Regions from separate parts of the Homo sapiens genome. Here all the other regions are linked to region 1. The links come from fine-mapping of genetic effects on gene expression. A gene starts in region 1. Each other region holds a variant in brackets. All regions are shown on one strand. Distances are between the middles of the regions.

The links. PIP is the estimated chance that this variant, and not a neighbour inherited with it, causes the effect. A credible set is the group of variants that fine-mapping cannot tell apart.
Region 2: its variant is the best candidate, but not a certain one, in a credible set for the expression of CCNG2 in whole blood (INTERVAL, PIP 0.58).
Region 3: its variant is the best candidate, but not a certain one, in a credible set for the expression of CCNG2 in whole blood (INTERVAL, PIP 0.51).

What each region holds. Positions count from the first base shown.
Region 1 is chr4:77,154,547-77,159,773 of GRCh38, forward strand. It overlaps CCNG2 (cyclin G2), which reads left to right and starts at 2,661. Exons shown (of 8, transcript NM_004354.3): 1 at 2,661-2,960; 2 at 3,987-4,124; 3 at 4,821-4,958. The coding sequence starts at 3,987. It overlaps LOC101928864 (a long non-coding RNA gene), which reads right to left and starts at 3,518. Exons shown (of 2, transcript XR_244659.5): 1 at 724-3,518; 2 at 208-430. RefSeq lists silencers at 2,220-2,339, 2,760-2,829, 2,860-2,969.
Region 2 is chr4:77,711,344-77,716,570 of GRCh38, forward strand. CNOT6L (CCR4-NOT transcription complex subunit 6 like) reads right to left here. Exons shown (of 12, transcript NM_144571.3): 12 at 2,044-5,227. Among named protein-coding and RNA genes, the nearest start is that of CNOT6L, 110 kb to the right of the region's middle. The variant A/AAGAT (reference allele first, on the strand shown) is at 3,017.
Region 3 is chr4:77,178,288-77,183,514 of GRCh38, forward strand. LOC107986292 (a long non-coding RNA gene) reads left to right here and starts at 746. Exons shown (of 4, transcript XR_001741742.1): 1 at 746-779. The variant A/ATT (reference allele first, on the strand shown) is at 2,081.

The DNA.
Region 1 (5,227 bases):
TCTTTTTCATAAATAACACTTTCAGCTCCGGCAAGGTAAGCCAATGTGATAAGGACAAATAGAATGAGGAGAATTTTTTTTTAAAAGATATATTAACAAACAAAAAATTCTGCAAAGTAAACAGAGAAAACCTACATAATCCCCCAGCCCATTTCCTAAGAATATCATCATTCTTAAAATGAGGTGTTTAAAAAAGAGGATGCTGTATTAATAATTACTGGATCTGTATTTTTAATGATTGCTTTCCTTTAATCTTAAAGAGATAAGTGGACTAACGTGGATAAAGGGCTCCATCTTGGACAACTTGATCAGTCTTTTCTTCTGTGCTGAGCAGGGCCTGCCAAGAGCAGGAAATTCAACGCCATTTACAAAGCTTTCTTGTCTTACTCTCAGAGAAAGCCATCACTGTTCACATCATTCAAGAGGCTGTCTGTAAAAGGACACATAAAATACCAGTTATGAAATATAGAGTACACATTTAGTATAGCTTCATATCATTTAGTGCTAAGCAGCAAGATGATTATGTCAAATAAAAGTTATCACTTATTTATGTTTAAAAGATCAGATAAGCATTGGATAAAATTATGTAGCCTAAGCAAAGGACAATTTCTAAATCTTTTCCTTTTTGTTTTATATAGTCTGTTATTTTTAAAGTCTTCTACCACATAAATTTGCATTTCCTCTTTCACATCACTTATAAAATAACGTATGTTCCTTTTTTACCTTTGCCTTCTTACTTGAAAAAAACATCCCCAGTCTCCTTCATGCTTTGATCACAAACTCTTCATTTCTCTGATGGTGGATAGTTGGTCGAGCTGCTTTCTGTCTGTGGGCCCTGTCCACTCAGCCTATTGATGCTCTGTACAATGAGCTGTCATCTCTGTAATTTTAATCTTAGCTCTAGTCTCTAAGTTAGTTTCATGCTCCTATTATGTTTATCAGCATAGATTTCCAGCAAGATGATTATGTCAAATAAAAGTTATCACTTAATGTTTAAAAGATAAAACAAGCATTGGATAAAATTATGTAGCCTGTAAATCATTTAAAACTGGTGTGCTAATTTTATCTTATTTTCCAAAACCCTCACCAAGCTCACACCTCTCTGAAATAAGTGTTAGCTTTTTGGGCTGCCTTCCCCCAGTTGCTCTGTGCTCCAAACAGATGCCTGTGTTTAGTCCGAGCTAATATGCAAAGGGACCTAGTTTTAAAATTCCTTAGCTGCTCCGCAAAGAAGAGCGCTGCCAAAGCTATGTTGTGTGCCTTCCCATATTTCACAAGTAACAAAATAATTCACAGAAAACACATAGAAGAACAGAAAGGAGAAATCTCTTCCCAGGGACTATCTGATTATGTAGATTAGAACTCACGAATATGGTATTTTCTAATTTAGGAGGGAGAGAGTAAACAAATAAATGTTCCAGGGCAGTCAACCACATGCCCCATTGATATTCCGTGTGAAAGTGTCTCTGGCCTAAGGCACCTGGTTTGTTTGCTTTTTGTCCCGTCCTGGGAGACGTGTCGCCTATAATAACAACGCTAATTATAATGAACAATAAATGATAATTTATGGGTTACCAAGGACCAAGAAGCTCTGGGAGTCTTCATTAAAACAACAGCACTACAACCTCTGGAGGTACGCCGTAATTATTAGATGTTTACGTACCCTCATCAGCGTGCTAAGTTTTTATTGAAAAGCCCCTCCTTCAGTCCCTCCTGAATTTTTTTAAATTATGGAAAAATTCCAAGACACAGAACTAGAAAGAATACTGTAATGCAGCCTCGAGTACCCATCACCCAGCTTCGACCCTCAACTTTTTGCCTATCTTATTTCACCTCTCTTCTCCATTTTTTTTTCTCTTGGACTGTAAAATTTTAAAGCAAATACCCAAACTTGTAGCATTTATTGAATATTTTAGTAAACGCCCCGACAATGTTATAATAATTTGGTGGGTTATTGCAAAATGGAACGCCAAGACAAAATAAAGAAGGAATGTAGAAAACTCTCCCGTGGCTGAAAAGGCTGTCACAAAGGTTAGCTGTTAGGAGAAGCGCCGCGAGCGTGACATTCCCCCAAGAAAGGCGGAGGCAGCCAGGCGAGAAGGCACAGCCCCGCAGGGCAGGTAACTGAATACCTTCTCCGCTGCACACCCAGGCATGCGCAATCCAGACCCTGGAGTTGCTAAGGCCCCAAGGCAGAGAGAGGCTCAGGCTACGGAGAAAGCCAATCAGAGGGCTCCAAGACTGATAAGTTAGCCAATCCAGATTCGAGGGTGAATCAGGTCCTCAGCATGCCCATCGCCCCACCCGCATCCAATCAGAGAGCCGGCTACTTTGGGCGGACTTTTCAAAACAGCGAAAACAAAACAAATCGGGGACCTTTAAAAGGCGTAATGAGACCAGAAACGATCTCCTTCCGCCCCTCTGTCTTCCCCCGTTCCCCAACGCAGATCAATCGCGGAATAAGCCCGACGCCCAGATTCCGCTCTCCGCCCTAGCGCCAGGCGGGAGGACTGGCTCGGCAAAGCCAAGGAGAGCTAGGGAGGCCGCGAGAGAGGCTCGAGACGGCAGCTTAGGGGCGGGACTCTTTTTTAAAGTCCGTGGAGGAAGTGCAGGATCCCTCCGCGGGGAGTCACGTGCCCCGCCCCCTTGGGGGCGTCGAAACTCTTAACAAAAACAAGGGGCTCGGGGAGGTTTCCGCTGAGGCGGCGGGGGTGCGGCGGTGGGCTGGTCTTCCGCGGCCGGCGTTGCGCCGCGGCGGAGGGTGGGCGCGCGGGGAGCGGGATGGAGCCGGGGCTGTGAGGCCGAGGCGGCGGTGCCTGGGAGGAAGGGTCGGATGCCGGACCGGGGGCACCGCTGAGGCGGTGGGTCCCCGACCTGCGAGACAGGTTTGGAAGCCCCCGCTGCGCCCAGTCCGTGCGGACCGCGAGGCCGCGGGCGGGTGGAGGCGCGTCTCCGGCACGGTGAGTGGACCCGCCCAGGGCCGCCGTGGGTTTCTTTGTTCGTGGTGGGGACTGTGGGCTTTGAGGAGGTTGGTACCATGCGAGTGCCTCGGTGCTGCCTGCTCCTCATCCGCTGGAGCGACCAGGGTGCTGCCCTCAGCCCCAGCCCCGGGGGGAGCTGGCGCCCGCGATGGACAGATAGATGCTCGTGGGGTGGAAGGAGGTTGCGACTAGGTTAAGGGCAGTCTCCGCCTCGGTGCCCCCCGCCCCCGCTCGTGTTGTCACGGGGACTTGCTGGCGTGGTGCTTCTCGAATTGACAGCCCCGGGGCTCTGCAGAGTTGTGGGGCCCCGGCATCAGTGGGTGGACGGGTGTTGTCCCTACGGGCGCGGGGCGGGCGGGCTGGACTGGACTTCTCTCCCCGGACCGTAGCCGGGTGTGCCGCGCCACCCCAGGGCTCCTGGGACGGGGGTATCCGCCTCTCGGGTAAGTCCGGAATCGGCGCTGCAGCAGCGGACGGGAAAAGCTGGGGGCGGGACTCTCCGAGAGGGGCTTCTGCAGCTGGGCGCCCCGGGCGGGCGGGGCTCGGGAGTCTCCTCCCTCCGCTTCTTTGTTCAGTCGCGAGACTCTCCCTCCCCTCCCCCCTATTGTGCAACACCCCATCCCCGGGACCCGCTGCAGTCGCTCGCCACACTGCAGTCCCCTGGGCAGAAGGCCCTCCCTGGCGCGACTTCAGGTGGGGCAGACCGAGGGGACGCCGGCGCCCGCGGACAGTTTCCTGTTTGTGAAACGCCAAGAGGCCAGGGCTGGCCGGTCTTACCCAGCGCTGGCCGGCGGACCTGACCACGGCTCCTCCCCCTGCCACACCTCCCTGGCCGTGGTGGGGATTGCCCTGGGGCTCTGGCGGACGTGACTGGTCCCTTCACCCGCTCCTTGTCGGGGTGTGCTGGGGCGACCCTTGCTGGAGGTACTGGCCTCAGCCCTTTCTCCCGCTTCCCCACCCCTCTTACCCCCAGATTACATTCTCTGTGTGGTGTCTTTACTGCAGATGAAGGATTTGGGGGCAGAGCACTTGGCAGGTCATGAAGGGGTCCAACTTCTCGGGTTGTTGAACGTCTACCTGGAACAAGAAGAGAGATTCCAACCTCGAGAAAAAGGGCTGAGTTTGATTGAGGCTACCCCGGAGGTAAGTTGGCAGAAAAGATAACTTGCTCAAGCAGCTGATGGGGCTTGGAGGAGGTAACCCCCCCGCCCCCGTTGAATCATGACTAAAGCCTGCAAAATTTCTTAAAAGTTGTTCTTTCTGGAGTACCAAGATAAACCTTATTACAGGTTAATGCTTTTGTTTCTTAGCAAGAATGAGAGTGATACTTTAGAGAAGTGGGGTTTTTTGTTGTTGTTTTTAATGTGGCACCCTCCTCGCTGCCCCCCATACTCCAGCCTGCAGCTTCAGGATGGGAGACCCCGGGTGAATTGAGTAGTTCATTTGTGCAAACACCCTCTGCCTGTGAAATACATATTTATAGTAGAATCTTAAATGACTTTAGAAAAGCAAACAAAAGAACCCTTTCTCTCCATTCCAAGGGAATTGAATTATATTTGCTATAACTCTCTGAAATCTTGCAACAGTTCACCTTATATTGAATTGCTGAAGCTCTTTTATGATGCGTATTTTTAAGAAGCAGTGATTTACGTCTTACAGATGATAAAGTGTATAGCTTTAGTTAAGCGATACCACTCTTTCCACCTATATTCTTGAAGATTGAGGGAAAAAAATTAACCTTATTCTTGGGAAAAAATTAACCTTATTCTTTGGACCTGTATGTGTTTTTCATCTGGTTCTAAGAAAATTGTAAACCTTGGTTCTTGGTTTTTATTGCAGAATGATAACACTTTGTGTCCAGGATTGAGAAATGCCAAAGTTGAAGATTTAAGGAGTTTAGCCAACTTTTTTGGATCTTGCACTGAAACTTTTGTCCTGGCTGTCAATATTTTGGACAGGTTCTTGGCTCTTATGAAGGTATTTCATCATTTTTATAAATATGTCTTCCTTTTTCTATGCCCAGTGCCTAGCACACAGGGTTCAAGAAATATTTATCGAATGGGTATAATAACGTCCACTGTACATAAAAATTTATAATCAGAATTGTGATCGTTAGTGCCAGAATAAGACTACAAGATTAATTGTATTGTTGTATCTTAGGTTTTTCTGTTGTGTCTTAGGTTTTACCTCTTAAGTACTTTCTCTTGAATATGTGACAAAAGAGAGACTACTATTTTTTAGGTATT
Region 2 (5,227 bases), 560 kb after region 1:
TTATATCTTGTTGGGATGAAGGTCTGGGCACACCACCTCAGAGAAGCAACCTAGACCCACTGACAGGTTGCTGCAAAGCTGTGTAAAATCTGAAATGTGTAATAGAATAGGGAAGATAAATATTAATCACAGCCTCAGAACCAGCTGCAGCAAGGGACCATATTCTTTGTCCCACTACTCCTCATCTATTTTTTTATTGAGATTACAGCCTGCCACAACGTAGGCTACAATGAAATGAACTTGACCCTGGGCCCAAACAGAACTTGGTGGTACAAGTGGTTACACTGTAGTGGACCCCTCTTATGTTCACTTCACACCTCTCAGCTCACTTCCTTATTCTATTACCTTGGCAACCAGATGCACACTGGTGTAACTTGATACACTTTGCCTGAGCCACACCAAATATTTCTTGCTTTTTGCACCACCCACCCCCTCATCCCATTTCTCCATTATCACTATATGGGACACCTGCAGGAATTTGCTAAGTGAATTTGATACAGGCACAAACATGGATGGGAAAAGGAATTAACACCCATGGAGTAAACTTTGCCTCATCCCATTCCTCATGAAGATAATTTTCAGGTGCCTTCTATTCAGCTCCACAGAGGGTCCTTGGCATGTTTATTCCCCAGTTGCCCACAGAAGTGATCAGCTCTGTAACGCATCCCTGACTTGGCTTTCCCTCCTTCCCTATTTCATTCTTCTTTGTCTTCCATTCATTCTTGAGATCAATTACCCAAAGAAACTACCTCCATGCAAACCCTTGTCTTGGTTTCTGCTTTTCGGAGACCGATTTCGTGAGATTTAGTTCATCTCCACTTTACCATTGAGCCTACATTTTGCCCAAGGCCAGATGGTGAAATGAAAGGACACTTGGTGAGTGTCTTCAATGCCTCATCACAAAGGTCTCTTAACAAGGCAGGTGTCTTGAAATCTGGACAACTTCAAGATTCACTTCACATGAGAGTGATTCCACTTTTGGAGGACTTCCTAAAGGCTGGCCAACACAAAGGCTTCTGTGAAGACAAGGTCCTCAGGGTCAGTGACAGCCTTCTCACACTGGATCCTTGGTAAAAACAAGTCAATAGGCACTGAACTGTCAATGTTGACAATCTGTTCCAAAATAATCTACCATTATCTTTTCCAAGCGCTTACTAAGCCGCACAGCTGTTTTCTGTTTCACTAAAAATAATCTGTTCTCTATCACCTTATTTTAAAGTCATTTTTCAGCTGAATATCTGTAAGCACAGTTTGCAGAATTCCTAATTATTTCACTATGTGCCTTCTCTCTCTCTCTTTCCAAGATTCTATGATTTAAGATATCTTTACTTTGACTGAAACACTGGAATATCTTCTGTGTCATAAGGAGTATTTGGAATATGAATTCTTGGAGGATAGGCATTATAAAGATGTCTTTCATCTTAATATGCCCACAGCACCTTGTTCACAGAAGATACCTGAATGTTTGTTGAATGAATTTACTTGAGATCTTAGCAGGTCCAGCTGTTGAGTTTCTTCAATATTGATAACTCAGCAAATCTGTCTGGTGGTTGTCTGTCAGTCAGGATCAACTAAATTAAGCCCTAATAACACAACTTTATTGTATTAACACACTGAGATTTAGCAGTTGTTTATTACGCTACATGCCCAAAGGACAGCAGGGGAGTTCTCTTCAACAAAGTCACTTAAGGATCTGGAATGAGAGGTTTCATCTCAACATATACTTCTATGATCACACAGGCAAGAAAAGGAAATATGGCAAATTAAAGACTGGCCCTTAAAGTTCCACTCAGAAGTGACATATATCCCTTTGCACTGGTTTCTTCGGGCAAAGCAAGTCATATAACTAGCTTCAGAATTTTTTTTAAACAATGTACTTAGTAATGTAGTTTTCACCAGAAAAAAAAATGTAGCATGAATTTGTAATTATGTATTTTGCCCTGAATTATCTTGGCTCCCTACTTCACTTTAGAAGAGACGTATCAACCTAAAAGCAGAGGTTTATACTGCACAAATAAAGAGTCAAAAACCAAGACAAAGGTATGCAGTTGCAAAATGGCCATTTATTGCCTACAGGGGAAGGAAAGGGAGGGAGAGAGGGGAAGTACACAGGTGCAAGGAAACAAGCATATATTTAGCCCTATACATCATGTGTGAGCAGTAACCAATCTCCAAAATGGAAAAAAATATTTTGTTATCTGACATAGTAGTTAAGGTTCTTAAGCACCTCCCTTCTGAGCTGCCACAAGATTTAAAAGGCAGGACTGCTTTTTTTTAGTCAATGTTCACATTAATGAAAAAATACTACCAACCGTGTCCTTTTGCACGCACACTTTGTACAGTGTCTATTGTGAAAAACATCTCAGCTGAGCAGTTTTGGTCAAGATTCAGACCTCATCAACTGTTTAACTGTAATAAATAGAAAAATAAAGCAGCTGGTGATTTTGTCAGAGAGAATGTGTTCAGTAAGAGTAGAACCACTTTCTCCAGGGATGGCAGAGAGTGTTAAATGGTTAAAACACCTACAGAACCAGTCTATTAAACATTAAACACTAGCAAGCTACAATTACATGGCACTTCATTAAATAGTCTAATTTAAAAAAAAATCTTAGATTTTAAACTGATTACTGAAACACAAAAACAAGTTGATTTAGTCCTTGGCTTTTTCTTAGAACAAAAGCAAAGTAAATATACAACCTAAAACAGCAGAATTTGTTTTGGAATAGTATCAATGGAAACTACCAAGTATTCAGGGAAAAAGTTACTAAAACACCTTGCTTGGTTTTACAGTCATGTGCTTTGCTTTGCAACCATTAGAATTAGATAGTTACAAAAACACTTTATAGGTCACAGAATGACTCAAATGTATGCAAAATAATGAATTCTTTAACTTAATGCCAGGTAATGAAAATAAATGAACCTTTCCCTACTCAAAACGATAAATTGAGTGGAAAAGTAGATTGTCCCATGGACAATTAGTTGGCACTTGTTATATAGTTGAAAAAAATCACAACAG[A/AAGAT]AGATATAAATTAATCGATGGTGAATTTGACCAACACCCTGGCCCTTATAGAGAGAAAAAGTACATACACACTCTCTTTAAAAAAAAAAAAAAAAAAAAAAAAAAAAAAAAAAAAAGCCCTCCATACTTCCCCACTCCAGAGACAACAAAGCCAAAGATGAAACATTCAACCTTCTCAAAATATTCCAAGTAGTTCTATTGAACTCTGTATCTCAGCTTCTCCAAGATGAAAAAGTTGTTTGCATTTGGACAACAACTGTACGAATGCCCATAGTGCACATCTCAGTGCTGCTGGTGTTTAAGAAATTTGTCACTCATAACCCTGAACAATTCCAGATCCAGTGTGCAGTAACACAGCCATCCAAATCCCTCCCCTTGAAAAGTTGGCAGAGCACCGCTCAGGAATTTCACAGGTAAGGGAATATATTTTTAGCAAGTTAAGCACAGAGAAAGGACAGTACAGTTTCTAAGTAAATACAGACCCAGATACTGCATCACTTACTGCATCAAGATTGAAACAAGCAGCAGGATACTAAGTCTGTTTGGTAAGAAGCAAAGCCATTGTTTGACATCAATGCTGAACCAATTTTGTGACTTCAGATAACTACAAACTAAATTAAATTGGTACATATAACAATTGATAGCTTGAAAGACAATACATCAGTGATTTGAAGTTAATACGAAACTGAAATGAGCAAGAAAGGACCACTTCTGAGAGGGTTACCATGATTCTTACGCTTTAGAGTTAAAAGTGACAGACATACAACTGGAAAATTATCTAAATTTTGAGAGATTGTTCTAACAAAAATAACTAGTACTAGGCACCAAACTAGAGCCTCCGAAAGATTCTGAAAGCTGAATGGACCATGCTACCACCATGCCAAAAGAGTCATATCACTTGGCATTTGTATATCCTTTCCATAATGTGATTTGTTTCTGATGACATACTTCTAAAATGCAGTTCAATGCTACTCAGTTTATACAATGTACCATAAAAAAAAATTAACAATTAATAAGCACAAATGTCCTTATGTCATAGGCTTTGAAAGTGAAAACTATTTTACTTAAAAAATATTCTATTACTTCAATGTCATGTCTGTTGAACGAAGAACTCAACATGCTTATTTTCCTTTGGTTCCAGGAAAAACCCAAGTCTAACCAAATGTATGCCACAAGGAACTGCCAACTGGGTTAAAGCTTGGTATTTTCCTGGTTATCACCCTATTTCCTGGTGTAGGACCTGGGGTTTAATAGAGACATTTACATAAAAAAGGTATTTGGTTAAAACAAGAAATATGCATGCTCTTCCTTACCACCTTCCTGGAAAGAACTGCTTTTTTTTCTTTCTTTCTGTGAATCTTGTTCAAGACATCCTGTAGTTTAGATATATGGGCTGCTTCTTTTTTACCCTCAAGCTTTTAGGTGACACTTATAAAGGTGAGCATATCATTCTATAAAATGAAAGATGCTCTTGGCATCCTGTTCTTAAACAGATTAGAACTTTGGTAAATAAGACAGATTAAAGATGTACTAAAATGTTTGAATTAATTTTGGTGATCATGATGCTATTACAAAATTAGAATCGCCCAAAGCAACCATAGTATAAAAGTTCTCATCTGCCTACAAATTTAAAACTTTAGTTCAAGCTTCTGGCTTCCCTAGTTAATTTCTCTACCTACAATTCACACAGTTCTCCAAACATGGTATGACTCAAAGGGAAAGGCGTAAATGAATCTACTACACATTAGAAAAGTGACCTTTTTTAAAGGGTAGGGCAGGTGGGAAAAAGAATATCTCATCAATGTGAGAATTCACATTTCTGTCAAAATGTAAGTATGTATGAGTGCTATTTTGAAAATGTGCCATAAAGTCTTTGCTTGCTATAAAAACCATTATTTTCCAAAAACTGGTCAGCATATTTTGCAAAGCTATTAAAATATCTCAGAAACAGAATAAAAAAGCTTAGAATCAAATAAGCATTGGGACACAGTCAATTTTATCATTAGAAAATCTAGCCATGTATTAGGAATGACATAATGATGTGGTTATATGCCTCTGGTTCTTCAAAGAATGTATTTAGCCTATTCTTCCCTGTGCTTTCTATAGTCTGCTGTTTCATACTAAAAGTATAGATGGCATTAGTGATTTTTAGAAACGCTTGGAAATGCAAATATAAACTTAAATTTTCACCCATTTAACAATATAAACTTA
Region 3 (5,227 bases), 24 kb after region 1:
CATGAGACTAGAATTCCTGTATAAAAACTGTATATCTTTTCTTGATCCTGAGAGCTCTGATGCAATCATTCCAAAAACGACTCTGCTATCCTAGAAGTACTTTAGTATTAAGCATTTAGTATTGGGAATTGGGTAGTATTATTTTCCCAGTAGACTTTATAGTATATTTGTAGAATTATAATTTTAAATATAGTTCAGAATTTCCATAAACATTAAGCATTTTTTAAAAGCACTGAATGTAGAAGATACAAAGATAGACATGCATACTAGTTTTCTTCTTTTAGTTTTGCTACTAGTAACTAGTAGCAAAGAGAAAAAACATAGGCTCTGCATACAGGGAGCAACACAGGACTGACAGGAATGTAAAAAATCCTGTGGAAGGAGAAGGAAGAGGGAAAGAAAGGAAGCTGCAGGTGACATGAGATGAAAGAAAGAGAACACAGTGGGGATTAAAACATGGAGGGAGGATTAGCTGTGGGAGCCAGTGAGTCCAGGCGAGTTCTGTGTAGGACAGCTGTTGGAAAGAGCCTGGGCAGGAGGAGGGCTTTCGGGTTTTAGTCCCAGATTTGTCCACAGCTGTCTGACCTAGGCAAGTAACTTAACTGATCTGGAGTTAATTTTGTTGTTTTTTCTTTCTTTCTTTCTTTCTTTTTTTTTATGGAGTCTAGCTCTGTTGCCCAGGCTGGAGTGCAGTGGCCCGATCTCAGCTCATTCCAACCTCCACCTACCAGGTTCAAGCGATTCTCATGCCTCAGCCTCCGGAGTAGCTGGGATTACAGGTGTGCACCACCAAGCCTGGCTAATGTTTGTATTTTTAGTAGAGACGGGGTTTCGCCGTGTTGGTCAGGCTGGTCTCGAATTCAGGTGATTTGCCCGCCTCGGCCTTCCAAAGTGCTGGGATTACAGGCTGAGCCACTATGCCCGGCCCCCATTCTGTTCTTTATGAAATGAGGAGTTTGGGCTAGGTGACCTAGGTGACTTTCTGAGGTCCACTATAGCTTTGCCGAAGCACCCAAGACTCTTGTCTTTTGGGAAAGACCAGACTAGACTGAATTCCCAGACTAGAGGGCTGTCATTATTTCTAGGTATAATGTTTTAGATTACAATCCAGACTGTGATCCAGTCAAGTCTGTCTTGAGCTGTGTTAATTTTTACTTTAGAAGGACAGAACTGATAATGATTATATAAATAATTACGGTGGCAAAATGGAATGATGGGCATTAATTAATGGGAATAAGAACATTCAGCACAAATATATTCTGAAACCAAGACAAGGATGAAGACTGTAAGGCAAATGTACCTGGGAATGTGCTGCAAGTATAGCAGGTGTAGAAAGAACCACCATTTGGGCAGCTCCATCATTTTTCAAGCTCTGGTGAGAGAGGCCATCTTAGGCAGGCAGCTATCAGTAGTGGAGATCTGAGGGTGGCACCAGACAGTGACAAGCAGCATAAATTGGCAGACAATAAGCCACACCCATATTTAATATCCAGTGCATGCCTGTAGAGAGTCTATGCTGTTCTGACAATCTCTGCAGTTTCATCTCTTGGAGGATGGAAAGCTTAAAATATTTAGGTTAGAGAAAGGGTCTGATGAGTGAAGAACTCCTCTTTTGGCTTGAATCTATCTCTTCTGCCTTTTTTTCTTTTTTTTTTTTTTATATTGAGTTTCACTCTTGCTACCCAGGCTGTTGTGCAATGGCATGATCTTGGCTCACTGCAATCTCCGCCTCCCAGGTTCAAGCAGTTCTCCTGCCTCAGCCTCCAGAGTAGCTGGGATTTAGCAGAGATAGGGTTTCACCATGTTGGTCTGGCTGGTCTCGAACTCCTGACCTCAGGTGATCCCCTCACCTCGGCCTCCCAAAGTGCTGGGATTATAAGTGTGAGCCACCACACCTGGCGTCTTCTGCCTTTTTTTTTTTTTTTTGAGGTGGAGTCTCGCTCTGTAGCTCAGACTGCAGTGCAGTAGCACGATCTTGACTCACTGCAACCTCTGCCTCCCAGGTCCCAGTTCAAGCAATTCTCCTGCCTCAGCCTCCTGAGTAGCTGGGATTACAGGCATGCTCCATGATGCCCAGCTA[A/ATT]TTTTTTTTTTTTTGTATTTTTATTAGAGACTGGGTTTCACCATGTTGGCCAGGCTGGTCTTGAACTCCTGACCTCATGATCCTCCCACCTCGGCCTCCCAAAGTGCTAGGATTACAGGTGTGAGCCACTGCACCCAGCCCTCTTCTGCCTTTTAATAATAGTTTTACTTAACTTAAAACCAGCTGTGAGCTTCTTCTTCATTGTTGCTATGGCCAGCTCCTAGAAAAGAGCTCATCACAGAGTAGATGCTCAATAAATGAAGGTGGAATTAACAAACACATGAAGCTACTGAAGGGTTCCCCGCAGGAAATTATGCTCTAGAATGGATGCTATTTTAAAGGACAGTATAGAATGGAAAGGGGTGTCAGTGATGCTTCTTTAGAACTCTGAGAATTGGAATTATAAAGTCAATACACAATGGAACAAAGCAGATATTTGGAGAATTCTCCTTAAAGCAAAACAAAACAAGCAAACAACCGACCAAAAAAGGGAACAGAATGTCTTCTGGGCCCCAAGGTGGGAAAAACAGGGCTTGGTTCTAGTGTACTCTGTGGAATCAACATGGCTAAGAAAGCGCAGGCCAACAGAATGAGAATGATTTGACCAGGAACAGAAAAACGAGTCAGAGAATCCAAGACCGACTTTGCCAGTGTGCACAAGTGTGAGGCTGGGGGCCTGGATGTCCTTTCTGAAATAAGAGAGAAGAGAGACCAAATTAGGAACACCCTTATGGTGAGACCGGACTACTTAGAGTACCCTAGCTTGTTCTGATCCTATATTTCTGTTTTGTTTTGTTTTTATTTTTTGAGACAGGGTCTTGCTCTGTTGCCCAGGCTGGAGTGCAGTGGCACAATCACAGTTCACAGCAGCTCTGACCTCCTGGGCTAAAGTGACCCTCCTGCCTCAGCCTCCCAAGTGCTGGGACTACAGGCATGGAGCACCACTATGACTGGCTAATTTTTCTTTTTTAGCAATTTTTTGCAGGGATAGGATCTCATTATTTTGCCCAGGATGGTCTCACACTCTGGCTTCAAGTGATCCTCTCACCTCTGCCTCCTAAATGCCAGTTTGCGCTGGGATTACAAGCATAAGCTTGTAATCAAACAATACTCATGCTATATAGAGTCAGAAGGCCTGCACCTGACTTTCTGATCCTATATTCTCCTAGCACGGGTAATGTCTGATTTCTTTGTTACAGGTAACTAACATGTTGATGTTGCCCTTTGCTGTCAGTTCAGCTCCTCTAGGAAGCAGATGCTAAGATGGAATTAGGAGTACAATAAATTTATTGGGGGCTAATGGCCATGACAGAAGGGAGAGGAAACAGGACTGGGCAATGAAAGTCTTCACACCTCCATGCAGATTAGACACCTGTGAAAGGAAAGAAAGAGAGGCAGAATTGGGCAAGGGGAGCTTCAGACCATGGTGTGGATCTGCATAAATCTCTGCCTATGCAATAGGGAGTTCTGGAACAAAGAGTCCCCATTAGAAGAGTCCCATGCTGGGCAGACAGGGCCACACCCGAGCACTCCCAGCTTGTACGGTATTGGCTGGGGGCTACCCAGGAAGAGATGGGCCTCAGCTCAAACACATGGCATATGTTGAAGATGCTGCAGCTAGAGGCAACAGTGAGTTCTCTCTTAAAGGGAGATCTTCGCAGCACACCTCCACAGCTGCCATGCGATCCAAATCTCTTATTCCATGCTGGCTTTCACTATAGAATAGTGGCCAGAGAGTTTGATACCTGCTTTCCCAGCCTCCCTGACAATTGGAATGACTATGTGACACAGTTCTGGCTAGTGGGGCTTCTGAGAAGCTAACTGGATAAAAAGACAAAGCCTTATGCGAAGAAAGCACGCACACACATACGTGCACCGGCTATTTGTTTTCTAATTTTGAATGCCGTCTTGATACCTGGAGGGGCAGCCATCTTGCAACCAAGAGGCCATAAGCAAATGTGCTGAAGGATATAGTTCCTTGATGACATTAATGAGACTGCTCTCTTCCTGGTAAATAAACAATATGTTATTAACAAATGTTCTTATGGTTTAATCTATTGTTTTGGTTTTTGTTACTTGCAGCTAACTGATAATACATTTATTGCCTGGTTGAAGTAACTTAAAGTATATATGTACTTAAAGAATATATGTAATTCACCCACAAGCAAGTTCCCATATAATAGGTCTCATTATAAATGAGTAAGTTGGCATTCTACTTTACATGTGAATTTCTTAATACTTTGGTTAGAGTGAGCCAGTCCTTGTGAAATCAATATTCACAGAGTATTCTGAGAAAAGAGTTTTGAGACCTGAAAAGCCAGAGAAAGACGAAGCCTGAAAAGGGTGACAAGGTGCACTCACTCAGCGTCCTTCCCGAGATTGTGCGTTCCAATCTTAGCAAGAGGGTTTGCATTTATTCAAGCCCCAGGACAAACTATGGCTGTACATCCTAGTTGGCAATAATTTTTAAATATCAAAAGCCTGAAACTTGTCACCTTTAAAAAAAAAATTTCTGCAGTGAAATAATGAAGCAGCGCCTGTACTTTTTAGGAGAATCAGCCCTGTATGATTAATTATAGGCCACAGGACAGCAATGGAATATATAGACTATGAGGACCAGTGGGCATTGTCTAGAAAGAAGCAATTTGTTTATAGAAGACCGATAAACACTGTGCCGACTTTCTTCCATTGACATACTAGCAACCATAAGGAAATTCACTCGTTGTCATGTTGGAAGACAGAGTCATGAAAAAGGATACAGAATAGGTCAGTTTTAAACATAGTTGAAGAAAGTATGGTGTGAGGACAATAGTGACAGAGTGGGGAATACCGAGTTGCTGGGCTGTAGTAGTGGGAATTCTGGGCACTTGTCCCTTTAGTGTGAGGACCCTAGACACTGGGAAATCTGAGGAGCACTATTTAGATGCAAAAATGGACCATTTTGATGTTCTCATCTGTATCAGTGTTGTCAAGGAAACAGATGACTTGCTCAAATTAGGATAATTCAAAGAGTGTTTAATAAAAGGACAATTTTCAAAGGTAAAAGAGAGGTGTAGGGAAACCTCAAGGATAGTGAAGTCAGGTCTTGAAACAGAGAAGCTGTAATCAAATTAGGCCCAAAGTGATAAAAGGAGGATAGATGGCTGC